7 linked regions of the Homo sapiens genome follow. The protein of the gene in region 1 purifies or fractionates together with the protein of each later gene. This does not show direct contact. Each region holds a gene or a part of one and is shown on either strand. Other genes may lie near its edges. The genes, in order: CTSB, MYO1C, GC, PFKL, LAP3, SPTBN2 and MYO1D.

What was found.
Region 2: the proteins of CTSB (region 1) and MYO1C purify together in Homo sapiens (affinity purification with mass spectrometry, with the first as the bait; one large-scale study listed by BioGRID). This does not show direct contact.
Region 3: the proteins of CTSB (region 1) and GC purify together in Homo sapiens (affinity purification with mass spectrometry, with the first as the bait; one large-scale study listed by BioGRID). This does not show direct contact.
Region 4: the proteins of CTSB (region 1) and PFKL purify together in Homo sapiens (affinity purification with mass spectrometry, with the first as the bait; one large-scale study listed by BioGRID). This does not show direct contact.
Region 5: the proteins of CTSB (region 1) and LAP3 fractionate together in Homo sapiens (co-fractionation; one large-scale study listed by BioGRID). This does not show direct contact.
Region 6: the proteins of CTSB (region 1) and SPTBN2 purify together in Homo sapiens (affinity purification with mass spectrometry, with the first as the bait; one large-scale study listed by BioGRID). This does not show direct contact.
Region 7: the proteins of CTSB (region 1) and MYO1D purify together in Homo sapiens (affinity purification with mass spectrometry, with the first as the bait; one large-scale study listed by BioGRID). This does not show direct contact.

The regions. Positions count from the first base shown.
Region 1 is NC_000008.11:11,851,088-11,854,587, forward strand, and holds part of CTSB (cathepsin B isoform 1 preproprotein), read right to left. Parts: intron 2,393-3,500; 5' UTR 2,368-2,392; coding exon 2,242-2,367; intron 1,609-2,241; coding exon 1,523-1,608; intron 1-1,522. UniProt on the Homo sapiens protein: Thiol protease which is believed to participate in intracellular degradation and turnover of proteins. Cleaves matrix extracellular phosphoglycoprotein MEPE. Involved in the solubilization of cross-linked TG/thyroglobulin in the thyroid follicle lumen.
Region 2 is NC_000017.11:1,468,687-1,472,186, forward strand, and holds part of MYO1C (unconventional myosin-Ic), read right to left. Parts: coding exon 3,437-3,500; intron 3,339-3,436; coding exon 3,221-3,338; intron 2,651-3,220; coding exon 2,537-2,650; intron 2,462-2,536; coding exon 2,385-2,461; intron 2,004-2,384; coding exon 1,935-2,003; intron 1,834-1,934; coding exon 1,749-1,833; intron 1,649-1,748; coding exon 1,489-1,648; intron 929-1,488; coding exon 845-928; intron 1-844.
Region 3 is NC_000004.12:71,781,280-71,785,510, forward strand, and holds the start of GC (vitamin D-binding protein isoform 1 precursor), read right to left. Parts: upstream 2,801-4,231; 5' UTR 2,776-2,800; coding exon of another isoform or gene 2,740-2,775; coding exon 2,682-2,739; intron 1-2,681. UniProt on the Homo sapiens protein: Involved in vitamin D transport and storage, scavenging of extracellular G-actin, enhancement of the chemotactic activity of C5 alpha for neutrophils in inflammation and macrophage activation.
Region 4 is NC_000021.9:44,320,553-44,324,052, forward strand, and holds part of PFKL (ATP-dependent 6-phosphofructokinase, liver type), read left to right. Parts: intron 1-1,176; coding exon 1,177-1,323; intron 1,324-1,580; coding exon 1,581-1,651; intron 1,652-2,409; coding exon 2,410-2,497; intron 2,498-3,213; coding exon 3,214-3,366; intron 3,367-3,500. UniProt on the Homo sapiens protein: Catalyzes the phosphorylation of D-fructose 6-phosphate to fructose 1,6-bisphosphate by ATP, the first committing step of glycolysis.
Region 5 is NC_000004.12:17,587,198-17,590,697, reverse strand, and holds part of LAP3 (cytosol aminopeptidase), read right to left. Parts: exon of another isoform or gene 3,019-3,500; intron 2,381-3,018; exon of another isoform or gene 2,217-2,380; intron 1,880-2,216; coding exon 1,721-1,879; intron 1-1,720. UniProt on the Homo sapiens protein: Cytosolic metallopeptidase that catalyzes the removal of unsubstituted N-terminal hydrophobic amino acids from various peptides.
Region 6 is NC_000011.10:66,691,217-66,694,716, forward strand, and holds part of SPTBN2 (spectrin beta chain, non-erythrocytic 2), read right to left. Parts: intron 3,148-3,500; coding exon 2,923-3,147; intron 2,646-2,922; coding exon 2,556-2,645; intron 2,231-2,555; coding exon 1,970-2,230; intron 1,885-1,969; coding exon 1,754-1,884; intron 1,525-1,753; coding exon 1,320-1,524; intron 443-1,319; coding exon 68-442; intron 1-67. UniProt on the Homo sapiens protein: Probably plays an important role in neuronal membrane skeleton.
Region 7 is NC_000017.11:32,492,022-32,496,124, forward strand, and holds the end of MYO1D (unconventional myosin-Id), read right to left. Parts: exon of another isoform or gene 3,427-4,103; intron 2,895-3,426; coding exon 2,738-2,894; 3' UTR 501-2,737; downstream 1-500. UniProt on the Homo sapiens protein: Unconventional myosin that functions as actin-based motor protein with ATPase activity. Plays a role in endosomal protein trafficking, and especially in the transfer of cargo proteins from early to recycling endosomes.

The sequences.
Region 1 (3,500 bases):
ACAAGACATGCCGAAGAAGGCTGCAGACAGGTGTCCTTGGTAATTTCATAAAACAAAAGGAAATTCTGTTGCTCAATGCACCTTTTGATTTTTTTTTTGGGTGGGACGGGAGGGTGGGAGTGGACAGAATTTCACTGTGTCATCCAGGCTGGAGTGCAGTGGCGAGATCTCTGCCCACTGCAACCTCTGCCTCCTGAGTTCAATCGATTCTCGTGCCTCAGCCTCCTGAGTAGCTGGGATTACAGGCATGCACCACCACACCCGGCTAATTTTTGTATTTTTAGTAAAGACAGGGTTTCACCATGTTGGCCAGGCTGGTCTTAAACTCCTGGCTTCAAATGATCTGCCTGCCTTGGCCTCCCAAAGTGCTGGGATTACAGGCATGATCCACCACACCTGGCCTGACTTGCGATATTGTACGCTTCTTTCTAGGCTTATGTAATGGATTTTTTAAGATGAATTTATCCACAAATTATAAACTCATTTTTAAATAAGTTTATTCAGTCCAGATAGTGTTTCTTGCCCTGCTCTCCTGCCTCAACCTCTGCCCAGGATCCTCTCATCATTTCTCATATCATCCCCATTGTGCAGAAGGCAGTGTCGTGCAACTTAACTACCCCATCCTCACGTGGGAAGTGGCATCATCTCAGCTCACCGCAACCTCTGCCTCCCGGGTTCATGCGATTCTCTAGCCTCAGCCTCCCGAGTAGCTGGGATTACAGGCGCCCGCCACCACGCCTGGCAAAGTTTTTTATTTTTAGTAGAGACGGGGTTTCATCATGTTGGTCAGACTGGTCTCGAACTCCTGACCTCAGGTGATCCGCTTGCCTTGGCATCCCAAAGTGCTGGGATTACAGGCGTGAGCCACCATACTTGGCCTCATCTGGCTTTTCTTAGATTTCCCTTAAATTACTCAAGATTGAGTCTGCCCACATAGTGGGGACCCAGACCTTGTCTGTCACATCTGCGGCTGAGACACCTTGGAGAAGCACAATAGAAAACACTGGGGGTGGCTCATGCCGGTAATCCCAGCACTCTGGGATGCCGAGTTGGGCAGATGACTTGCTGAGGCCAAGAGTTCGAGACGAGCCTGGCCAGTATGGCGAAACCCAGTCTCTACTAAAAATACAAATATTAGCCGTGCACGGTGGTGCAAGCCTGTGGCCCCAGCTACTCAGGAGGCTGTGGCATGAGAATCGCTTGAACCCGGGAGACAGAGTTTGCAGTGAGCCAAGATCGTGCCACTGCACTCCAGCCTGGGTGACAGAGTGAGACTCTCTCAAAAACCAAAAAAAAGCACCAGCATCTTCTCTACTAATAACTTGAGAAGGAAAAAATAAAATAAAAAGAGAAAGTAATATAAAAATGAAAAGAAACAAGTACTGTACCTCAAGCGGTGTCGGCAGCCCTGGGCAGCATGAGCCCTGCGGACGCCAGAGAGGCCTTCACTCTCCCACTTCCCACTGCCCCAAACCAACGCCTGCCACTCACATTACAGCGGTGCAGAGGAGCAGGCACTCACCTCTGGGGTGGCTTGGGCCCACCCAGGAAGGTACCACATAGCCTCTTCAAGTAGCTCATGTCCACGTTGTAGAAGTTGTGCCCGGCCTGGAAGAGAGTCACCCACTGACTGAAGGGTCTCCCGGGATGGCGGTGGATGGGCACGCTGCCCACACACGAAGCCCAACCCAGGGAAAACCAGAGACCCTACCCAATTCAAGGGCCCAAGGGTTGGGGGGCACTGGGGAACAGCCCAGAGTGACACACGGGCAGAGTGGGTGTCTCCCCTGATCTGCTCCCATTTGCTGACAATCAGAGACCCTCTCCAGCCCTCAACATGGCTCACTCCTCATTCTTGGTTCTCAGTCCGAGGGTCAGGGCTGGGCAGAGACAAAGGGAATCAGGGGCGGGACTGATAAACTGCCACTGTGCCACGGCGGGCGTCACAGGGGCTAGCTGGTTTTGAACACTTCCGAAGCTCACTTACTCCCCCACACACCTCCACGTGCACACAACCATATATTCATACACATGCACACACACTCATGCACACACGTGGGGTATGGGACAAAGGAGGGAGGCGTGGTCCAGAGCCGACATGACTCAGGGTCAGGGCCATTTTTCAACAGTCCAGGACAATGTTCTGTGGGCCACAGTGAGGGCTGGCTTCCCATTCCTGGAGTCAGTGTGCACAGACCGACCTGGGAGGGGACATACATAGGACGCAGCCCCACAGCCTACCTGCCACGTGGTATTCCGTTTGTTGACATAGTTGACCAGCTCATCCGACAGGGGATGGAAAGAGGGCCTGCTCCGGGCATTGGCCAACACCAGCAGGCAGCAGAGGGAGGCCCAGAGCTGCCACATGTTGGAAGCCGGATCCTAGATCCACCTGGAGAGGACAGAGGGCATCAGGACACCTCTCTGTTATGTGGGTCGAGGGCTCACACACACAGGGGCACCGTCTCGGGCATCAGTGGGGACCCCCATGCTCGTCCTGGCCCAGGCGGAGAACTCTTAAGGAGCTGAGGTGTCTATGGGATCCCCGCCCCCCTGCCCGAAGCACGCCATGACCTCGTGTGGGTCCCCGGGGGCCAGGCGGCCAGAGCCCAGAGAGAGAGCCAAGGGGCTGTGCTGGACGAGACCGAGTCCAGGGCCTTCGCTGCTATTTTTAAACGGCCTTTGCATGGATTTGTAGAACAGCTTGAGACACTTTCCCAAGTGAGTGATATGAAACAGTTAAGAGCCTGTCTGTGTGATTACACCCTAAGTGGAGGACCCAGGGGACAGGGAAATGTAAGAAAAGTTACAATCCAGGAGTCCTAGTTTCGACAGGACACAGACAAACAAGCTCGGTGTGGGCTGGTGGAGGTTGAGGCTGAGAGGTGGGGCTGGGCTGGCCATCCACCCACTCCCGGGGCCTCTCTGGTTTTTCCAGTCAGCCAAGGGCTCTGCTTCCGGCTGCGGAGATGAGGCTTCTGAGAAGGAAAACTCTCACCTCGATGCCCCAGCCGTTTGATCTTGCACTGGCTCATGAGTCACAAGCCAGTGCTTTCCAGCTTGAACTCTGAGTCACCCTCCTAAGTGAGCAGCTCAACAAAAGCAATACATGTCTCCTGGGCGCCTGCATCCAGGGCTGGGGAGAGCCGCGGCGCGGGGAGCTGGGTGAGGCAGGGGTTCCTGTCAGTCACTCCAGGGGCTCCCACGGGTGGGTGAGGTGTTCTACCTCCCACAGGTCACAGGTCGTCATGAAAGTCACAGGACTGCGGTGTCAGTGCTTAACAAACTGCCTGGCACCTAGGGGTTCTATCTGAAGAACAATTTAAACTTCATTGTTGCTTAAGCAACAATTCATCTAGGAGAATAAATATATGAGGACAGCAAGATGGCTCTGGAAAAAAGCTTTTTTTTTTTTTTTGAGACAGGGTCTTGGTCTGTGGGCCATGTCACCCAGTCTGGGGTACAGTGGCACAATCTTGGCTCACTGCAGCCTCCACCTC
Region 2 (3,500 bases), on another chromosome or scaffold:
CAAGCACTCCCCAGCGGGGTCATGAAGGCACTGCGGGGTTTTGAAACTGGCCTTGGTAATGCTTCCCCACCCCATCAGGCCCTGGTGGCCCTGAGACTCAGCTCCAGCTTGGGGTCTTGTAAGCAGCAGATCACTAATACTCAAGGTTACTGGGTGGGCCCTTTAGCATCATCCAATACTGAGTTGGCAAAAACACGGCACATCAACCAATGCCTGTAATCAGGGCAGATATCACCAATCGACCCGAGTGAAGACGCAGACTTTTCAACACAGGGTTCTGAGCAGTCTCTACCAATCAAGGGCAGTTGGCCCACGATATGAACCCTACTGGCCACCCCAGCTGTACTCCAGTGTCCACTTCCTACACGAGGCCCAGCAGGGCCTGGCATCCAACTGAGGTCACCGGTAGACCGGGGTAAATACGGTAGACTAGGGTAAATAGAGCAGACCGGGGTAAATAGAGCAGACCGGGGTAAACAGAGTAGACCGGGGTAAATACGGTAGGCGGGGTAAATATGGTAGGCAGGGCAAAATACGGTAGACCGGGGTCAATACTATAGACGGGGTAAATACAGTAGATTGCGGTAAATAGAGTAGACTGGGGTAAATACGGTAGGTGGGGTAAATACAGTAGACCGAGATAAATACGGTAGGCGGGGTAAATACGGTAGACTGGGGTAAATAGAGTAGACCAGGGTAAATACGGTAGATCGGGGTAAATACGGTAGAACGCGGTAAATACGGTAGACCGGGGTAAATGCCCCTCCAGGCGGACACCCTTTGAGCAATGCTTGCGACTCCCTGACTCCACTTCCTCATCCTCACCCAGCCCCGCTCTCCGTACCTGCTGCTTCCACTCAGGGCTGATACTCCGGCAGTATTTCCACACCATGTTCTTTATGCACAACTCCCGCAGAAGCTCTGAGGCCTAAGGGGAGGAGTGAGGTCAGAGGTCCTGGACACCCTGGGCCCTTCCCTCTGAAGACATCGAACATATGCTACTGCATCCTTTGGATAAGTAACACCCCCTCCATCTGGAGACGCTTCCGGTCAAGAGACCTTACTCGGCAGGGCGCGGTGGCTCACGCCTGGAATCCCAGCACTTTGGGAGGCCAAGGTGGGTGGATCACCCGAGCTCAGGAGTTCAAGACCAGCCTGGCCAACAGGGTGAAACCCCGTCTCTACTAAAAATAAAAAAATTAGCCGGGCGTAGTGGCGGGCGCCTGTAGTCCCAGCTACTCAGGAGGCTGAGGCAGGAGAATCGCTTGAACCCGGGAGGCGGAGGTTGCAGTGAACCGAGATCATGCCACTCCCTGGGCGAAAGTGTGAGACTCCATCTCAAAAAAAAAAGAGACCTTACTTTTCACTGCTCAGCTCTGGTCCGGGCCCTCCGTGAGCCCTCCCTGACCAATCCTTTGGCCCGAAGAAATCAGACCCTTCTGCTGTGTACTATGATGGTCCCTAACTTGGCAGGGGGTGCCCACAGACCTCACGCAGGGCAGGTGGGGGCGTGGGCCACGAGGTGTCCAGGACATTCTGGGGCAGCTGCCGCCTCAGGTTTAGCAAAAAAGAGGTGCGCACATGGTCCAGGAAGAAGGCGTTCTCGGGGCAGCGGGGGGCGTGGCGCAGGACGAAGCCTCGGATGAGCCTGGGGTGGGGGGCCAGACAGGGTTGGGGGTGAGGGGCCTGGCGGTGAACCACCCCCCACGCCCTGCTCTGCAGCCCCCACAAGGCACCCTGGCGCTCACCGCCGGATGGTCTGTGCCGCCCACTTCCTCTTGGCTGCCTTCCTCCGGCCCAGTGTTCCACGCCACCACGACTGGATGCAGATGGCTGTCGTGGAGACCACAGATGGCTGAACTCTATCTTCTTACCATGGTGGCCCCCCCTGGCCCCAGACCCCGCCCCTCCTGAACACCCATGGGCCCGCGAACCTGATCTCTTCACCCGGAGGAATTTCTGCCGCCAGTGAAAGCCCCTCCAGGCAGCTTGGATCTTTGTGGCTGCGGTTGGGAAAGAAAGGCAATTGGCCAGAGCGCGGGGAGCCAGCTGGGAGCCTGGTGCCGTGTGCGCTCCACGAGTGGCATGAATGGGAGAGTGGCTGAAGGAACCAACGAGCAGGAGGAGAGTGGTGAAGAAGAATGAATGTGGGGACTGCCCGGAAAAGGGGGGCGGCGGGTGGGATGGTGGGCGTGGGGCTGGAGCTGGTGGGGAGGGGCTCCAAGTCGGCCATTGGACTCTCTGGAGAAGGACTCCCTGGAGCTGGGCGTGGGGCTGGAGCTGATAGGGAGGGGTGGACTCCCTGGAGAAGGAGCCCAAGGGAGTGACTTCCCTGCTTCCCAGAAGGGACCCCGTGCAGCAGGAAGGGTAGGCCTCTCTCTCACCCAGGCTCTGCCGCCGGACCTCCAGGGCATCCTCTGTGGCAAACAGGGTCTTGGGGAAGCGGATGAAGATCTTGGTCCTGGGAGAGCAGTAGTGATCAGCCCGGGGTTGCCACTCCCATTCCCCGCAGGCACCCGGCACGGACACTACCCACCTGCCCATCTTGTACTCTTCTGGCTTGTAGCCCAGGTGTCGGACCAGCACAGCCACCCCATCCTGCGGCCGTCCTGCCCACGTGGGCCACGTCTCTGGGCACAGTGACTTGTACCTGGGGACAGGAATGCACGCGGCTCCCACCCCAGTCAGCAGCCTGCCCTGGGGACCCCAATCAGCTTTCTCTGGGCACCTGCTGGGTGCTCCCACTGACTCGTTCACAGCTAGCAGGAGGCTCACTCGGTCACTGCCCCCATTTTAAAGATGAAGAAACCGTTCTTATCTACCTAAGGCCAAGTAACTAGAAAGTGGCAGAGATGAAATTCAGTTTGACCCCCCAGGCCCCCGACTCAGAAGAACCACAAAGCTGCTCCACCCTTTCGGAGCCCCTTGGAAGCTGCCCTACAAGGCTTGCTGTCTGCCTCTGGTGCCCGGCACGTGGACGGAGGCCTCCTGTACCCCTGACCGGGTGCTCCTGGAGGGCACGGCCTGGGGGAGCCGGGTATTCTTTCCACCCAGCCTGATGTCAGGACCGCAGCACCAAGGGCCTCCACCAAGGGCAGCCCAGGGCCTCCGCATCCGCATTTCTAAAATGGGGCCGAGAACCCTTGTCTGCCCTCATGGGACCTAGGGGCTCCTACCCTCCCGCTCCCCTTCCCTGGCACCGAGCAGGACCTGCCCCCACCTTTGCAGGAAAGCTTCGTATTTGCGGCGATAGGCAAAGCCGGCTCTGCGCACGCGCAGGTTTTCCAACAGCCCCAGGTACTTCACCTGGTGGCGGATCAGCACCTCGTCAAAGCGGCCTGGGGTAGGGGGAGCGCCGTGGTCAGCGGGCTGGCGCTGACGGCCTGTCTCCTGCAGGGGAGGCCCGGCCCCGAAGTCCCCCGTGGGAGGGGCCTACCGGGCTGTTTGGCATCATTGGGTTTGATGCAGCGGACGTAGGCGGGCTCCTTAGACTGCAGGAT
Region 3 (4,231 bases), on another chromosome or scaffold:
ATGTAAATGACGAGTTAATGGGTGTCAGCAAACCAACATGGCACATGTATACATATGTATCAAACCTGCACATTGTGCACATGTACCCTAGAACTTAAAGTATAACAATAATAAAAAAGAAAACTTGAATCGAAAAAAAAGAAAAGAAAAAAATGCAAAAAAAATATTTTTAGTGCTCTGTTAACAGTGTGTAACTTAAAACTGAGAATTTTTTTGCTGTAGTTTAATTTTAAAAAATCAATTTTTATAAATGTTTCCTGGTCATTAAGGTAACTTTTCTATCTGCAAGTTAAAAAAAAATTTTATAGCTGTATCACCAGTCTTTGTTACTTGGTTTCTTTGGAAGGGAAGAGGGAAAGATATATTGTATATTAGTATTTCATCCATTTCAGTCCTAGGGGAAGAAGCTACTTGTAGGCAACTGGGAAATACTGCCTTGTTGCTTTTCATAGGGTAGCAAAAGTGGACATTTTCTTATGGTACTAACCAGATTTAGCAGATTTGGTAAGCTCTCTTCTCCAAGATGTACCCAGTGGCTTGGGAACAAGATTCCCAATGCTGTTTGATAGGAGAGGGCTGGCTTAATTGGAACCTGTCCAGTAAAGGGTCATCTGTAACAGTATCCATTTTAGACCCAAGGTTTCCAAAGAATAGTTCCACAGGTATAGACATTGTAGAAAAGGGTCAATATGTTTAGATACTCTGAGTTAGATAAGATTTCTTTCCTGTAGTGTTTCTCAGAACCTTTAGGACGACAAAGGCATGAATTGTGAAACCACCAAGAAGGAATAAATTATGGCTCATTTCTTAAATATATTTGGCCACAGAAACTTCTTTTCAAGGTAAGTCTTGAGTGTAATATATTTTGAAACAGGTGCTTAAATAAATGCTGTGGGTGGTCAGCTCTCTAGAACTATAACAGGCAGAGAAAACTGCAATTCAAACCAATCCCCCACAATACAAGGCTACTCAGAACCTAAGAGTTCTCAGAACTCCCTTAATCTGTACACTTTGTAACTTCCTGCCAGGAAGAACACAGCTAGCTTCTAAGTAAACTGCTGACTTGGTCTTTGGGTCATGCTCAGGTATTAGAGAATAGAGAATTGATAGATCAGGACTACTCTCCCCAAATATTGAAAGTTAATGCTTACAAGTGTATTATGTATGTCTCAAGATATCATCTGGCATATGGCACATGGGTTATAAGAATGAAGTTTAGATCTTCTAGGGGACTGACTGGAGGTTTTTAGCATCCATTTCATCAGAATCTGAGGACTGCTGAGAATGTTGAAATATAGATTGCAGAATGCTCTGTTATTCTCCAAAGGACACTTTCATTCTTTGAGGTGAAGCCAATGTGCACCTATTGAGTCAGCAGTCTAAGATGGTGATTCATGCTCCTGCTTATGGCCTCCATATATAATTCCAATTCCTAGCCATTATTGGACCTTCTGTGTTTGAAGACCCTGATCTGAACCTGCTTCAGTAGGATTTTTCAGGATCAGATCTGCCCCAGCAAATCCTTGGCCAAAAGAATAAGACTTAAAGGGATTTCTTGGAACATGGCCTATTCAGAGGTCTTATAAGGGACACAATTTATGTTGCTTTTTTATACCCTATGCTGTCTGGGAAAGACTTTGTAGTCTTACCTAAGGACGCATAGCTTACTTAAGAATTGATGGGTAAGACGAGTTAAAATAATTTGAATGATGAAATAAGACCAAGGAAAAGTAAATGTAAGAAGAAGAATAAAAAGTCAAGAGTAAGGTTATTCATGTTACAGTTAATAACTGATAATTCTTGGGAACACACATTTTATTCCACTGGCAAAACACATTACTATTATGAATAATAATGTACGAATTAGGTGAGGCTGTTAACTGACAGCACTAAATGAAAACCTTAATTTTACAAAGCAGGATAAATGCAGATGTCCCTTGTGAACATTAAAGAATCAGCCAGAAAAGTAAATTGAAGCTAATGATGAAAAGTTTCCCAGCTGTAGAATTCATAAAGTTGTATACTTCCCATAATCTCAGTCTTTATCATGTAAAAAAATTTTTAAACATTGCCCAAAGATGAACACACCATCTGAAGAATAATTTCAATGAAAAATATAACTGAATTATCTTATTTGTGGTTATGTTTCATAGCTATAGAAAAATTTTATGTGAGGGATATTTTTAAAAATACAATGCATTTTCAAATACTGCATGTATAAGATTCCTCTAAGGGGATCAAAGAAATCTCTAAGTTGACATCATGCATCATTGGCATGGTATATTACACTCAATGGTAATAAATATTTGAAGTCTGAATAAATGCTTAATGGTGGATCACAGTCTTTATTTGCATTATCTTGTAACAATTAGCAAATGTCTAATTTTAAATTATTCTCTCTAGGTCTTGCTTATCAACAAAGGAGGAAGAGATAATTGACAAATTATATCATTCCATTTACTTTCTTTAACAAGATTCTTGTGTTGATTTTTTTTGTCAATTCCAATTCAACATTACATGGCATCGTGGAGCTCTGATTAATGCCTCTCTGGTCCTTATCCCTCTCCCCAACATATTCACCAGTTCTTCTGTTTCTTACTTTTTATTTCATTTTTTAAGTGATAATATAAAATTAAACTAGTAAGAATTCCTGTAAATGGTCACAACAAAAGAAATCTTACCTCTCTCTAAAGCATGTCCAAATGCCACAGCAAGCAGTAGTACCAGGACCCTCTTCATTTTTCTACCAGAGAGTCTTGCAGCACCTCCTCTCTCCTGTAGGTGACCATGTAAAAGTGGTAGCCAAAAGTAATTGGTTTCCTTTTTACAAAGATTCCTGACTATGAATTAATCAATTATTAATCTCAGAAGCAACACAGAATTATTATTAAACACAGAAGCAAGGGGCTGTTATCTTTGGCCCAAAAGAGATAAAATAATATCAATCAAGGTAAATAGACACCCTGGGGATACTGTAGTGGAAAATCTAGGAGATTTTAATCATTAACTTTGTCAAACTGCAAAAGAGCCAAGGTATATAGATTATTTTCCACTGCTGTTCCTCACTAAAGTTTACTTAATATGTTAGTAACGCACACCTTCTCCCCCTGTATAGGGCTGTGTGTCTTCTTTGGACACCCCACCTTTCTCATATGTAAGTGGAAAATCGGAAACTCTGTCTTTACCTCTCTTCCTCTCTTTGTTTAAATCTACTACAAATAAGCATTACCTTAAAATATTGCAGACCAGATGTTCTAAGTAAAAGGGGAAAAAGAGTGAGAAGCCAATTCAACATAATATTTTAAATCCATAATTCTGATGCTATGAAGTAATCTTATTTTAGATGATGGCATAGTACTTTGTATTTCTATGCTGTATTGCACTTTGTGAAGCACTGACATATATATGAAAAATAACCTTTGAAGTGAGGCAAATAACTGGAGAGGTTAAATGGCTCACCACTGCCAATCATAAAAAGTTAGTGGCAAATCTTGGACTCCCTACAGTGATTTTAAAGCTCCTTCTACTAATAGTTTACAACTAGTATATTTTATGGGCATGTAATTTGAGAGCTCAGAGAGGCCCTGTAGGACATGAAATCCAACATCTTCATTTTACAGAAGAGTGAACTGAGCACTGGGTAAATTCTGTGACTTGTCTAGAGAGTCATAGGTAGATCATTCATTGGAATTAGATGAGTTCCACTCCTGGTTTTTGCAGTAGCCCTATTTTCAGGAAATGGTCAGGTACAGGTTGTTACACATGCTCTAAAATCAAATCCCTACTCAGCTTTCATAGCTGTGTAACCTTGGGAAATTTATTTTACCCCTCTAAGTTTCATTTTCCTCATATGCAATGTGGTGATAACTCAGTACATTTGACACAACATTGCTATGAGGTTAATTAAGGTAATCTGGGTGCAGGGCTCATGGTAACATCCATCACATAGTAACATGGATTAATGTCACCTATTACTCTTATTCTAGTTATTGCCACGTTCTCCCACTGGCTTTCCAAATTTATAATATCTGTGAAGGTCAATGAAACTAATGAGGCCATTGGAACTCAGTGGAAGAGTTTAAAGACAGCCCTGTGTCCAGGGTCCCGCAGATAAGTGATTTAAAACTTCATTATCAACTCAGTAGCCAAGGATTATCTACATGGGCAGAGTCTATCAAAATTTCAGTAAACCAATTTAGGTAGTTACATGTTTAGTCAGATTTTCTATCTA
Region 4 (3,500 bases), on another chromosome or scaffold:
CCGTCTCTACTAAAAATACAAAAATTAGCTGGGCGTGGTGGTGGCACATGCCTGTAATCACAGCTACTCAGGAGGCTGAGGCAGGAGAATAGCTTGAACTTGGGAGGTGGAGGGTGCAGTGAGCCGAGATCGTGCCATTGCACTCCAGCCCGGGCGGCAAGAGTGAAACTCTGAAAATAAAATGTTCCCAAACAGCTGAAAACCTCAGGAAATGGGATCTCTCCAAAATAAGGATGAAATGGCTTGTTTCTAAAGTCCTGGGGGACGAGGGTCCTGTAGAGAGAGTCACGGCCAGTGAGGTCCTGGCTCCCAAGCCCCTTGAGCCACAGCCGGAGCTGCAGGCCGGGGCAGACAGCGTGGCCCAGCCTGAGTCTGGTCCTCCCTTCCATGGACATCTTTGGGTGTCCCTGCTGCTCCAGCCTCCTGCTTATCCCCAGAGCTAGTCAGCGGGCTCTACCCTCCGTGGTGGGGCAACCTGGTCTCCACGAACCCAGAACCTGGCAGGGGCGTGACTGGCTTTGTGGGCAGCAGGGCTGGCTCGTACCAGGACCCAGTGGGGCCATGTGGCTATGGAGCCCTTGGGTGTGGCTGCTGCCAAGTGGGATGTGCTGCACGTGACAGGTGCACGCCAGGTTCAGAGCCTCAGCACGGTGGGTGGAGGGGAGGTGGTGGCGGCCGTCACTGGATTCACATGGATGTGGTGGGGTTTTGGGTCCATCAGGTTAAATTAACTGTAGTCCTGATGGGACTGTCTCCATGTCTTTTCCCTTCCCTTAACGTGGCTACTAGAAAACAGGATAGCCAGGGCCCCTTCCTTACTCGTGGCTGTGCACCCCCCACCCTCCCGCCCGCTGCCAGCCCCTTGTGTGGGCACTGACCTGTGTTCCCGCCCGCAAGCCTGGCTTCACAACAGTGCTCGCCCCTTCTGCCTCCTCTGTTGCCTGCGTGCCAGGGGGCCAGGCTTGCACCGTGTCTCTTTTGGTCTTCACCAGAATCTTCTGGAATTAGAACAGATACCGTATTCCCAGGGCAGTTGGGCGGTGTGCTGGGCAGCGTCCAGGCTGCTGGCAGGGCCTGGCCCCTTTTTCCAGAACCTGCCGGCCTGCTGACCTCCTGTGCAGGTTGGGGGTCCCCTCCCCGGCTGTGCCTCACGCTCATCTCCCCTTCTCTCTGAAGTCTAACTTCTCCCTGGCCATCCTGAATGTGGGGGCCCCGGCGGCTGGCATGAATGCGGCCGTGCGCTCGGCGGTGCGGACCGGCATCTCCCATGGACACACAGTATACGTGGTGCACGATGGCTTCGAAGGCCTAGCCAAGGGTCAGGTGGGTCCGGCCGGGGCAAACAAGTGAGGACTTGGGCCTTCTGTGTGCACACTTGGGGCATTTCCTGTGGAAGGCCGGCTGCTGGAGGTGGAGGCTGAGACCTGGGTCCGCGTGTCGGTGCCCACCCGGGCCTGGGTACTCAGCTCTGCCTGCAGCGTGATGCCCAACACTGGCTGGCCCCCGGGCACAGGCCCACCCCTGGGGGGAATTGGCCAGAGGCTCAGGCTGGCCCCTGAAGCTGCATCTCCTCCTGGCAGGTGCAAGAAGTAGGCTGGCACGACGTGGCCGGCTGGTTGGGGCGTGGTGGCTCCATGCTGGGGACCAAGAGGTGAGCTGCCTGCTGCGGGTACCTGGGGGCAGGAGGGCCAGGGCGCAGTATCCAGGCCCTGCAGGTGGGGGCGGCAAGGGGAACCCAGCCCGGGGCCCTGGGCTCGGCCCCTCTTCCTGCTGGTGGTCTGCCCAGAGCAGGCTTCACGCCTCCTGCCTGGGGCTTCCTGGCCTGAGCTCCGCTGTGTAGGGCAGGCTGCTCTGGCGGCCCCATGCCCATGGTGGGCTCTCCGTGGCAAGGAAGCTGGCGAGCGTCTGTCCCTGCCTGGCCAGGCCAGGCAGCCTGCACTGTCAGCACTCTGGCTGAGGCTATGGGCCTGTCTGATGGCTTTTGTCCCAGGGCCTGAGACCCTTCTGTGGGCATGGGGTGGGCACAGTCCCCCTGTGTGACTACAGGGGAAGTTGCTGAGTCCTGAGCCACTGAGTGGCTGCAAGGGCCAGAGGAAGCATCCGCTCCTGCCGCTGAGTGTTGGGCGAGAAAGCCTCGGGCAGGAAGGGGTTCCCACGGGGAGCCCAGCGGGGTGGGGGGTTCACTCGGTTGCCTGGCCGGTGCCTGGTGATGCTGAGTGGTGCCCAGGCGGCTCACGCTGGGCCTGTGTGTCCCTCTCCGTGTGGAGCCACAGCGCCACATCCCGGGCATTGCAGCGACTGCTGACTGGCTCGGGGAACGGCCAAGGCAATGCCTTTCTGTGATCAGATGCAATCTGGACACGCGTCCCCGGGTGCTGCGTGTTCATGCGGATGTGTCTTTGACTGCAGGACCCTGCCCAAGGGCCAGCTGGAGTCCATTGTGGAGAACATCCGCATCTATGGTATTCACGCCCTGCTGGTGGTCGGTGGGTTTGAGGTGAGAGCTGCCCACGGACGAAAAAGCCCCAGGGCACAGGAGACCCAAGGTGTCCTCCCGCCGAGGGGGCCCATCCTGAAAACCCGTGTGCTGGCTGGGCCGATGCAGGGGCCGAGAGGGTCGGGGTTTTAAGTGCTGTGTGTGGGCTCGGGAGGGCACCCGTGTGCCAGCTGGGCTGATGCAGGGGCCGAGAGGGTTGGGGTTTTAAGTGCTGTGTGTGGGCTCGGGAGGGTTCTTTACTTTCTCCGGAAAGCTTCACAAGGTTCCGATTAACCCCAGTGCTGGGGAGGGGCAGGGGAGGAAGGGGACTCGGAAGCTGGAGGACGAGAAAGAAGGGAGGCGGAGGAGGCAGAGGTGTAGGTGCTGGACGGCATCGCTGAACGTGGTGTCCTGGCACTGGGCAAGCTGTCACTAAATAATGAATAAATGACAGCCCTTCCCCCTTGCCCTCCATGGAGTGGATCTGGGGTCAGAGTGGGTTGGAGGAGACTCCTGACCCTCCTTAGAGTCCAGTTTCCCTGGTAGGCATCCTGAGATGACACCAGGCTGACTGCCTGGCCCAGCCCCAGGGGATTGAGCAGGTGGGTCCTGGCGTCCAGCACGGGGCACATGACAGGTCAGCAGGGAGCAGGGCTGGGCGGCCGCCGGCAGAGCCTGTCCCCGGCCCACCCTGGCCTCGGTGCTGCCCTTGACCTGCCCCGTCCCTACTGCTGCAGGCCTATGAAGGGGTGCTGCAGCTGGTGGAGGCTCGCGGGCGCTACGAGGAGCTCTGCATCGTCATGTGTGTCATCCCAGCCACCATCAGCAACAACGTCCCTGGCACCGACTTCAGCCTGGGCTCCGACACTGCTGTAAATGCCGCCATGGAGGTACGGGGCTCCTGGACACCGGCCTGCCATGCCCAGGCCCTTGTGGGGTGGGGCTGAGCCTACGGAGGCTGCTGGAGGGGATAGTGTGTGGTGAGCACCTGGGAGGGCTGCCAGGGTTGGGGTTTGTGGGGCAC
Region 5 (3,500 bases), on another chromosome or scaffold:
CGGGAGGCTGAGGCAGGAGAATGGTGTGAACCCGGGAGGCGGAGCTTGCAGTGAGCCGAGATTACGCCACTGCACTCCAGCCTGGGCAACAGAGCTAGACTCTGTCTCAAAAAAATAAATAAATAAAATAATAGACACTTTAGTACAATAGTATAATGCATATAACTTATAAAAAAGCATGCATATTTTCAAAGGGATGCACTCAAGATCTTTTACTGATGGGCTATACCAGGAAAACCATTTGGAGATCAATGCTTTAAAGGAGAAAATGTGAACTAGTGGGTGGGAGACACAAGGAGGCACTTTGACCTGCTAACACAAGGAGACCACACTGACAGCAAGCTATGCCAATGACAGGGGCTTCCTACGTCTAGAAGCATTCCAGAAAGGGCACAAAAATGTACAAGGGGACATCAACATCGTATGGTTCTCTAGCAGCATTTTCCAAAGTAGTTTCCAGGTAACATGATTCCCAGGAATCAGGGTTCCTTCAAAAGGAAATACAGAAAATGCTATATTCTGTACCCTGAGAAGTCCTGTAGTTAAGCAAATAAAACAAAAATGAAACCCCTCATGGGTTTCTCTAACCTAGTTTTTTTGCTAAGTAGCCCTTTTTACGTCTCATACTCGCTGGCATCCCTGAAACTTGTGTTTGGTGGCAAATGCTTCCCATGGGAAATACCAAACTCCACTATCTTTCTCAGTTCAGCCTCTCCTTGGCTGAAATAACCAGATACAGTTTCCAACTCTAAGAAATACTTATGGTTGAATAAGATTAATGGGAGCTAGACTGGTCAGCTAAAAGAAGTAATCATCTGAAGCAAGCAAAGGGAAGACAGCATAATACAAACAGGGGCATCACCACTAACCTCGTGGAGAATCTTTAACAGCCACAGAGGACAAGCAAAGTGCATGGCAGAAAAATCTGAAGACACTTTAGGCAGAGCACAATGGCTCACACCTATAACCCCAGCACTTTGGGAGGCTGAGGTGGGAGGATTGCTTGAGACAGCAGTTTAAGACCAGTTTGGGCAACACAGTGAAAACTCATCTCTATATTTTTTTTAAAAAAAGGACACGACACACCTGAGTTTGACTTCGGACTCCACTTACTAGTTATAGGACTTTGAACAAATTATTTAAACTCTGAGTCATGGTTTCTTTACCTGGAGAATGTCTACAATACCTAGCCCACAGGGGTATGGTTAGGGCTAACACATGCAAAATACCTGATAGTCTCTGACATATTCTAAGCATTTTAGAGGTGGTAGCATAATAAATTTAAAGTAATGTATACCTTCAACCAAACACCATGCTTTTGTATCAAACTATAAACCGGCCAGGCACAGTGGCTCATGTCTGTAATCCCAGCATTTTGGGAGGCTGAGGTGGGCGGATCACTTGAGGCCAAGAGTTCAAAACCAGCCTGGCCAACACGGCAAAACCCCATCTCCACTAAAAATGCAAAAATTAGCTGGGTGTGGTGGTGCACGCCTGTAATCCCAGCTACTTGGGAGGCTGAGGCACAAGGATTGCTTGAGCCTGGGAGGCAGAGGCTGCAGTGAGCCGAGATCACGCCACTGCACTCTAGCCTGGGTGACAGGGTGAGACTCTGCCTCAAAAAAAAAAAAAAATCAAACCAAAAAACCCTATAACCAAGTAATTAAACTGCACACAAATAATTCACCAAAATACAAAGCACGGACACCATAAAAAATACCTGTCAAAGGTAATTCCTTTCCCAACAAACACCAGGGGTGGTTCGTTTGCATTGGGGCTGCCTTTGTAGTGAATTTCCAAGAAGACTGGGGGCTCGTCAGATCCTTTGGCCACACTGAGGAATGATCCCATTGCCTGTTCCTCAATCCAAGACTTGGGTCTATAGGGTAGAAAGAGGGAAAAAGTAAATATACTGTTACCTTTATTTCAAAATAACAGAAAAAGCTCATCACAGTGTGTGAAAAAGTATAATATACAAACTCTTAAAGTATACGCACATTAAGGTTTCAATTATCAGGTCCCATTATTTGCTTTCTGTATATTCTTGGGCAAGTCACTTGATTCTAAGCCTATTTCCTCATCTATAAAATGAGGTCTGTAATTCTTCCATCAAAAGATTATTGAATTACTAAGAGAAGTCATGTGTGGTACCTAATACAATGTCAACTAATAGTCTACAGTCTATATAATTAATTTCCTCTCTCCAATCTACTCAGATATTTCTACAATTTTAATTTAAAGATGAAGTTAGAAGGCCGGGTGCGGTGGCTCATGCCTGTAATCCCAGCACTTTGGAAGGCTGAGGTGAGAGAATTGCTTCAGCTCAGGAGTTTGAAACCAGCCTGGGCAAAAAAGTGAAACTGTCTCTAAAACAAATAAGGTAAGATATAATAAAGATGAAATTAGAGGCCAATGAAGGAGGATCACTTGAGGATAGAAATTTGAGACCAGCCTAGGCAACAAGTTGAGACTTGGTCTCTACAGAAAAAAAAAAAAGAAAAAATTAGCCAGGCATGTTGGTGCCTGCCTATTGTCCTAGCTACTGCAGAGGCTAAGACAAGAGGCTCGCTTGAGCCCTAGAGGTCAAGGCTGCAGTGAGCCACGATCTCGCCACAGCACCCAACCTGGGCAACATAGCAACACCCTGTCTCTTAAAAAAATAAAATTAGCAATAGGCTCTGAGACCACAAAGAGTGCTTAAAGATAGGTAAGGGGTCCATTGCTTTATTTCTAAAAATGAAAAAAAAAAAAAATCAACCAACAGACAGCAAACCAAAGCTATATCCCAATGACTGGAAAAAAAATATCCTATTTATTTGCTTTTTAAGAACTGTTGAATTCTATCTTTTTAATGTTGTCACACACTGTTTCTCACAGTTTCAACTGTTGCTTGAGGCATCTTTAAGTGAGAAAACTAGTTAGTTCTTACTTAATAAACATGGGATCGGTGGGGTAACAGAATGGAAACAGTCCTTAGTTCAAACTAGAAAACTGATGCCATATTGCTCTTCTTTCTAGGCTAGGAGCACAAAAGGGCTTTGTATTGATTTCTGGCCACGGTAACTAGGCCAAGAAAGAAATTCTATCCTCCTGCAGACCAGCAACAACCACAGCCAAGGAATGCTCCTCCGGCATTTGCCATCCACTTGTTAAAATGATTAAACTAGGACTGCATCATGGTGGGATGACCAGCACACTTCAAAGGGAAAAAAATTTTAAATCGGAAGATGAAACAGTTTTAAAAATCACTTCAAAAAAAAAAAAAAAACAACAACAACAAGGCTGTGCAATGTGGGCATTTTAAATCATTAACTCAGTACTTGATGTCTGATTAAAGTCCTGCCCTTGTGGAAGAACTGCCTGTGTTTCTCTGATATACACTGACCTACAATGGAGAGTGCTTAGCGCGGCTATGTCTCAGTTTAACGAGTCATACCCCACCCATGCGTCCTGCCTGGTCTCTGCTGAACTCTTTTCCCTTTGCTCGGCTACAAGTTTTG
Region 6 (3,500 bases), on another chromosome or scaffold:
ACTCTCCCCGGCATTTCCCCCATGGCCTCCTCTAAGCCTCCCCCACCTCCTCATGCTTGGGTCAGACCTGGGGGCTGAGGGCCTGAATGTCATGCTCGTAGGCACAGTGTCGGCGCTGCAGGGCCTCGGCAGCGTTGAGGTCGCGGCCAGTCCCGTCCGGAAGCTGCTGCTGCTTGTGCTGCACCCGCGCCAGGGCTTGGCGTGCCCCGTGCAGGAAGCGCTGCAGCTCGTACGCCGCGGCCAGCACCTGACCCCGTGTGTCCAGCAGCTCAAGCAGGTCAGCCCAGGCCTCGTTGAGACTGTCCTTCCACTCGGCCACGGTGGCCCGTGCAGCATGGCCCCCAGCAATGAGCCCATTGGCCAGCGCATTGGCGCTATCTACGCGCTCCTGACCGATGGTGCTTGTGTCCCGGGAGAACTCTCGGAATTTGTCTCGGAGCATCTGGTAGAGGAAGCAGATGGACAGACCATGCCGTGATGTTAGGGGATGTGGTCCCTGCCTGATGGAGCGAGTCCTCCACTCCAAACTCAGAACCCACCTCTCCCCGCTGCATGGGGGCCGGGACAGGTTTCTTCCCTGTGGTTAAGGAGTAGGTGCAGCTGCTTCCCACTGACCCTGTATTTGACAGACTCCCTCCACCCCCAGCAAAGGCGTTTCAAGGTGCTTGGGACCCTTAGGCTTCAGACAAGGATACCCTAACTATGGTCCATATTTCTGTACGACTGAGGGTCCAAGCCCCCAAACTGTCGGGGGGGTGGATCATACTCCGTTTTGTTGAATTCTGTTGAAAAGTGTGAGTGATAATTTCCTGTTTGCCCTTGTCTCAGCTCAGCTTCATGTCCCCTTTCTGTACAATTCTTCAAATTGTGTGTGTGTGTATGTATTTAGAGATGATAGGGTCTTGCTCTGGAGTGCACTAGCGCAATCACTGCAGTGTCGACCTCCCAGGCTCAAGAGATCCTCCCACCTCAGCCTCCTAAGTAGTTGGGCCTACAGGCATGCACGGCTGTGCCTGGCTAATAAAAAAAAATTTTTTTTGTAGAGATGGGGGGTCTCACTATGTTGCCCAGGCTGGTCTTGAACTCCTGGACTCAAGCAATCCTCCCATCTCAGCCTCCCAAGGTGCTAGGATTACAGGTGTGAGCCTATGCCCGGCCTCTTCAAATCATATACCTCAAAACCAGGAGGACAGTGCCTGCTCAGCCTGGTCTTGCCCCTTAGCCCCTCAGTGCTCTGCCTGGGACTAGGTCCTAGTCTCCCTGTGGGTCCTCCACTCTTCCCACGGTTGATCTGAGCTGGGTGCCCTCCCTACACTCACAGTCACATGCTCGTAGTCCTGGCCCAGCTCGTGGGAGGCCGCCACCACCTCGCGCTCCTGGATCCACTGTTCCAGGTCATCCAGCTCGCGGCGGAGCTGGCACAGCCGGAGGTGCTCCTGCAGGCGCTCCCGCCGCTCTCCAGCCAGCTCCTTCAGGCCGGCATACAGCTTGTCCACCTGGGCTTGGCGGATGGATATCCGAGTGCTGCAAGAAGAGTGAGGGAGGCACTGTGGGACTTAGGGGTGTAGCTCTGACCTCCGGTCTGTTCTGTGGAGCCCTGTCCCTCTGAGTCTCCCAACAGCTCGCCCACCCTGTGTTCCAGCTTTCTAGAAGGCTCCGTGCACACAGCACTGAAGGCTCCACATTCCCTGCACCTTCCTGTTCCTGCAGCCGGCTCCACCCCCAGGCTGGGCCGGGCTGCCGCTGCACCCACCTCTCTGGGTGCTCGTGGTCAATCATGTCCTGGCTGCTGGCCGCCAGCTGGTGGATGGTCTGCGCGTAGTCGGCCAGGGCTTGCTCCAGCACCTGGTGCTTCTTCACCTCTGCCTGGGCACTCAGCTCATCCTGGGGGAAGGGACAGTGGCATCCAGCATCAGGTCAGGGGAGGGCAGAACTGGTCACATACACTGGGCTCTGTCCTGGCCCTCACCTTGGCCTTCTCCTGGCCCATCATGTGTAATTCCTGCTCGCCCATCCAGGCCTCCGCCTCGGCGGCATCGCGGTAGAACTGCTGGGCTCGCAGGGCATCCTCCAGTCGCTTCCCTCGAAGTTCCAGCTCGTGGCCCAGGCGTTTCCACATTTCCTGCAGCTCAGCCAGCTCTGGACCTGCTGCTGCTGCACCTAGAGCACGCTGCCGCTCCCTCAGGTCCGCGATCCGGGGCTCATGGCCCTGAATCTCTTTCTGCAGGGTCTGCCCATGGCCACAGAAGAGAAAATGCTGAAAGTCCTGCCCCAGCCCCACGTGCTCCCGGAGACCACCCTTCACCCCTGTGCCTCTCTCCTTCCTGGGTCCTCTGCTCCCTCTCCTAGCCTGGGGGTGCGATGGTAACACCCGTCAGCCGCCCAGCCCCCACTATCTCCTACTGAGAGGACCCACCCTCCCAAGGTGAGGAAAGACAGCCACTGAAGTCCAGGGTTACACTCAGCATCGAGGGGGGCCTGGTCTTAAGAAAAAACACGTCCAAGTCTGGGCAGGCTCCTGGGAACTTCTCTTTTGCCTTCAGCCTCTGCCTCACCTGGTTTTTCTTCATGAGAAGCTGGACGCTGGGCAGGTCCTTGCCATGCTCCATGGAGCTGGCCATGGGCAGCCGCTCTGTCACCCACAACTGGAAGAGGAAGAGGGGGTCAGTGGAGGCCCAGAGGGCAAGGCAAGCAGCAGGGACTGATTAGTGGGAGTGGGGACACCTGGGGCTACCGCCCTGTGTGTGGGGAACAGTCATCTCTGGTTCTGGGAGGCATCTCCAAGTCTCCCTATAGGGGAGATGGTCAATGCCAAAGAGAAGAGGGAATAGAGCCCTGCTGGCATCTCCCTGGCATCCAGGAGGGAGGCTGGAGAACCACATGGCTGGGGGCAGCTTGCCGTCCTTGGCCCCAGTGACTCACAATCTCATCTTCCACATCGCGGTGGAACTGGTGCTGCTCGCGAGAAGCCTGCAGGCGCCGGCAGCGTTCCCGCATGGGCTGGCACAAGGCCCTGAACTTCTCCTCCACGGCCCTCGAGGTTCTCTCCACCTCCCCTGCACCCTGGTCCTCCTGGGCCAGTGCTTTGGCCTGGGCCTGGATTGCCTCCACCTCCTTCTCTCTCACAGCCATCTCCCATTCCAGCATCTGCAAACCGCCAGGAGGAAGGACATGTTAGCTCTGCATTTCCGCCTTCATGCCCAGCAGAGACACCAACCAGTCTCTATCCAGCCCACTGTGGCTGCTCATCACTGCAGCTCACCCAGGGAGAGCATCCCCTCATGGGCTGGATCAGTGGATCTCGAACTTTATATGCACAAGAATCCAAGGGCAGGGGTTGAAAAAATCCCTATTGGGTACTGTGCTCACTACATGGGTGATGGGTTCAATTACACCCCAAACTTCAGCATCACACAATATAACTTATAACAAACCTGCACCCACACCCGCGAATCTAAAAGATTGAAATTAAAAAATCCAGGGTAGTGTGATAACTGTGC
Region 7 (4,103 bases), on another chromosome or scaffold:
TTCCACAAAGCAACTGCCTTCGTCTGAGTTACAGAAGCCACCGCTGCGTGTTCTTTTCTGCCAATGACCAGTGACCGGAAGCACCCTGGCTGCAGGACCCTTGGGTGCTGGCCATGCCCTGTTGCTCCCTCAGGGCCTTGCTCCCTTCCCCAGGAGGAGCTGCTGCTTCCTCTCACTCTCCCTGCCGCCCCCACACTTCCTCCCAGCACCTTTCACTCCGCTGGCCTGGCCTGTCCCCAGTCTGCTGCTGTAGGTCTCTGAGCCTTTCCTTTCTACATACGTGCTTCTATTGCAGTAAACATATTCCCTGGCACTAAGCAGTGTGCTTCCAGCTGCCAGCGCACAGGCCTCAAGATGGCAGGAGAAAGTGCTGGGACTCAACCCCACGGCCTCCTTCCCTCCTCACACCTCCGGTCCACAGCTTGCTTCTTGCTCACTTTTTGTTCAAAAGCCTCAGGCAAATCATCCTCCATTTTACATGATTTGTGCTTAATTCTCCCTTCTATCCTCCCAGATAATGGTTGACTTTATTTAAGCAAAAATTTCACCAAGTTTTCAGTGACAGATAAGCAGAACACCTTTAAAAATAAGATTTAATGCTTTATTGCTCTTGATGGCAAATCAAAATATGCTTTAGAAATAAAGTTAATTTACTGGAAAATAGGAGTTTTTGCACCAAACCATAAAATTGCATTTCATTACATCAAGAGAACCCCCTCATTGTCTACAATCATGCCCGCTTCCTTTCCCCTCAGCGCCCGGGACACGTGACCGAGATCATACCCTAAATTCCTGATCCTTTTGCAGTTGCCACATACTGTGGCTTTTAGTACATCATAAAAAAGTGCTTGTCCTGTGGCCTCAGCTGGGAGGCCCTGGCGCTGGGGCTAAGGGGCCCAAGGCACCATCCAAAGGCTGGGAGGAAAGAACCCAAACCCAGGCCCTCCTCCTGCCCTCCAGCCTTTGACAGGCAACTCATTTGGCATGATCTGTTTTGGTGTGTTTAAAACATACATTTGCATGTGTCTAGTGTAAAGCAACAAGTTTGAGGAAATAAGTGGAAGGAGAGAGGAAGTTCCAGTTAGATGGTTCCACTAGTGTCTACTGGTAATTGGCAAAACTATGAGTGTTGCTAATCTGGGCTGAGGGCACCTCTGCCTGTGCAGGCAGCTGACCAGGCTTGGAGAATGAGAAAGGGTTCCCAAGGACAGGATGCCAGCGGGATTCTTTGTTGCAAACTGCACACAGTGCAATTTTTGGGAAGCAGGGATGGGGAGTGGGCATGAGACCGGGTTGTTGGGACCACTCTGGGGTCAGGCCCTGGGTGAGGCACAGGAGGCTGCACACAGGCACTTGGTGGGTTCTGCCGGGTCAGGGTGGGAAGGCAGGAGAAGTGTCTGTGGCAGGACGGGAAGAAGCTTCAGTACATCCCTCTCTTGCACCTCTGCCCACTCCACCTGAGGCGTTGGCTCCCTCCCCCTCATCCTCTCACCACATGCCTGAGGCGTAGGCTCCCCTCATCCTCTCACCGCATGGGGCATTTGCTCCCAGCCTCTACTTCCCTCAAGGCCTTCTCAGCAGCTGGGGCTCAGTGGGGAAGGTGGTCTCAGAAGGCCCCTGAAGCATACGTGCTTTTGCTGGGCAGAAACTGGCAAGCTGGCAGTGCTCCCTGGCACCAGTTTCACGGGCGCAGGCCCCAAGGGGCCGTGTAGAGGGCGGGGTGGGCATCCTGGCCTGGCCTGCAGTGCCAGGACCCCACGCTGTGCTGCTGCCCCGCTTCCTGCTTCCCGTCATCCCGTGTCTTGACCCCGCCCTTGCTGTTTCTCTGAGTAGGAAACGCAGCGGGAGGTGGTCCAGAGGGAAAGCGGCCGACCCTGAGGGCTGCCCTCACCCTGGCAGCTCCCCGTTCTCATTAGGGTTCCTGACCCAAGTGTGGTGACAGCAGGTATCTGATTAGCAACCCTGCAAACGGTGAAAGTATCTATAAGAGGACCACAGCCACAGGCTGCGAGTTAAGTAAGATGATCCTTGGAGCATGCCACACTGTCCTCTCCAGAGCGGTGGTCAGAGGCCCTGGTGGGGGCCTTGGTGGCAAAGGGAGTCTCCCAGGGGAGAACCTGGGAAGGATGGACTCACTCTGCTGGATGGGCTGTTCCGCTCCTGCCACTGGCTCCTGGCTGAGGGGCTGGCCCTGTGGGTGACTCTGCTCACCCAGTGGCTTTGGCTGGCGGCTGGGAGTTGGGTTGGGGTGGGTCCGCCGAACTCTGAGCAGAGCCTCCCTGAGCTGGGTCCCCAGGGCTGGCTCACCTTGGGCAAGAGAGGTGGCTATGGGGCTCCCGCAGAGTGGGGTCCTGCATCCCCACCCCTTCCCTCTGCAGGGTCAGCAGCAGGGAGGACACCTGTCCAGGTGCTCTGACTTGACCTGGCCACGGGGCATCCGCACCAACTAAAGGCACCATCCAGTTGCCTCTGGGGTGAGATTGGTCTGGACGTCAGCCCAGGGGTCTGGGCGGGGCACCAGGGTCTTTGGCTTATTGAACAGGGACCGTGGACAGTAAGGACAGAGGAAGATGATACCAAAGGCAGAAAACCAGGAAGGAAATCTTACAGGGGCGGGGCTCCTCTGGGAGGGGCCCTCGCAGCAGGTTTCTAGCGGGCATGGGTTGGGAGGCAGCAGCTGGACTGGGACCCAGGACTCGGAGTGTGGCCGGGCTCCGGGCCAGGCCTCCGCGGGGCGTCAGTTCCCGGGCACGCTGAGGATGAAGCCCGAGCGATTCTTGGTGAAGTCGGGCTGGGGCTGGTTGAGCCGCGTCTCCACGGAGACGGTGCACTTCTTCCCGTGCAGGCTGCACTGTACTGGGTTGGTGACGTTCACTTGAAGGTGGCGCTTCTCACTGCAGGAACCAAAAACACCAGACGGGCAGTTAGCAGGCAGCATGAGAACAGGGCACCTGCCCGGCAGCTCCCGGCCACCATTGGCTCCGGCGCAGCCTGCTTCCTCCACAAGTGCCAGGAGGATGCCTGAAGGGCCCCAGAGAGGCCGAGGCAAGGCGAGTGTGGCACTAGCTGGGCCTCCAACCACAGCCTCGGCACCATGGCAGGGCCCTTGGCTCCCATGCCAGCGCATGGGACTGGACAGTGGAGGGCCATGTGGTTGAACAGACGCCACCAGGTCTCTGGCTGGGGCTGAGGACCAAGCCCCTGGGTCCTTCGGTGTACCAGGGCTGGGGTTCTGACTCTGACACTAATCCATCCTGCGGGAGACCCGTGCCACATGCCCCAGTGAGAGAGAGAGAGAGAGATGTCTCCTGCTCCTGGCTGGTCCCTGCCTGTCACACCCCGGCTGGTGGAAGTGGGCCTGACTTGGGTTTCCCCAAGCGAGAGGCTGCTCTCATCTGGAGCTGGGCCGCTTGGCTGGTTGCCACCCTGGAGGCTGCAGAACAGTGCAGCCGGTGCCCCACCGGGGGCTGCAGGGAACCCTGTGCAGCAGGAAGCCCCGCTGGCCTGGGAGCACATGAAGGCGGCTTCAGCCGGGCGTCCGGCCGGGCTCCAGGTCGGGTGCAGAGGCGGAAGCTGTGCTCTTCCTGCTGGACAGAGCCCGAGCCCGAGCCCTTCCTCCAGCTCCTCACACGACGCTGAACATGCTAAGAAGCTGCTGCTGGTTTTAAAAGCAGAGACACTTGTCGCGATAGGCTGGCACCCCAATGTTTGCTCACACAGGCAGCACAATCCCACGCTGTACCTCAGCTTGTGCCTTGTCAGCTCTGAGCTGGGAGGGGAGAGGAGAAAGGAGGAAGCCTCCTGACCTCGGAGCCTCCAGTCAGGACTGGCTGGCTCTGCTCCGTATGCCGAAAGCCCTGGGAATTTTTCACTGCTCTCGGGATGGCGTCTGGGGCGTGGGCAGGTTGGTCCCGCTTTGAACGCTCTGCTGGACTTACGGAGCTGCTCTTAGTGCTGGGCAGTGAACGCCAAGCTGTCGTGTCCACACGGCCAGGGGAACGCCAGGGCCAAGGCCAGCATGCGCTGAGCTTCTGCCCAGCCTGGAGTCGCCTTCACCAGGCCATGAGCACGTGAGGCACTTTCTAAGCACTGGTTGCCCGGGA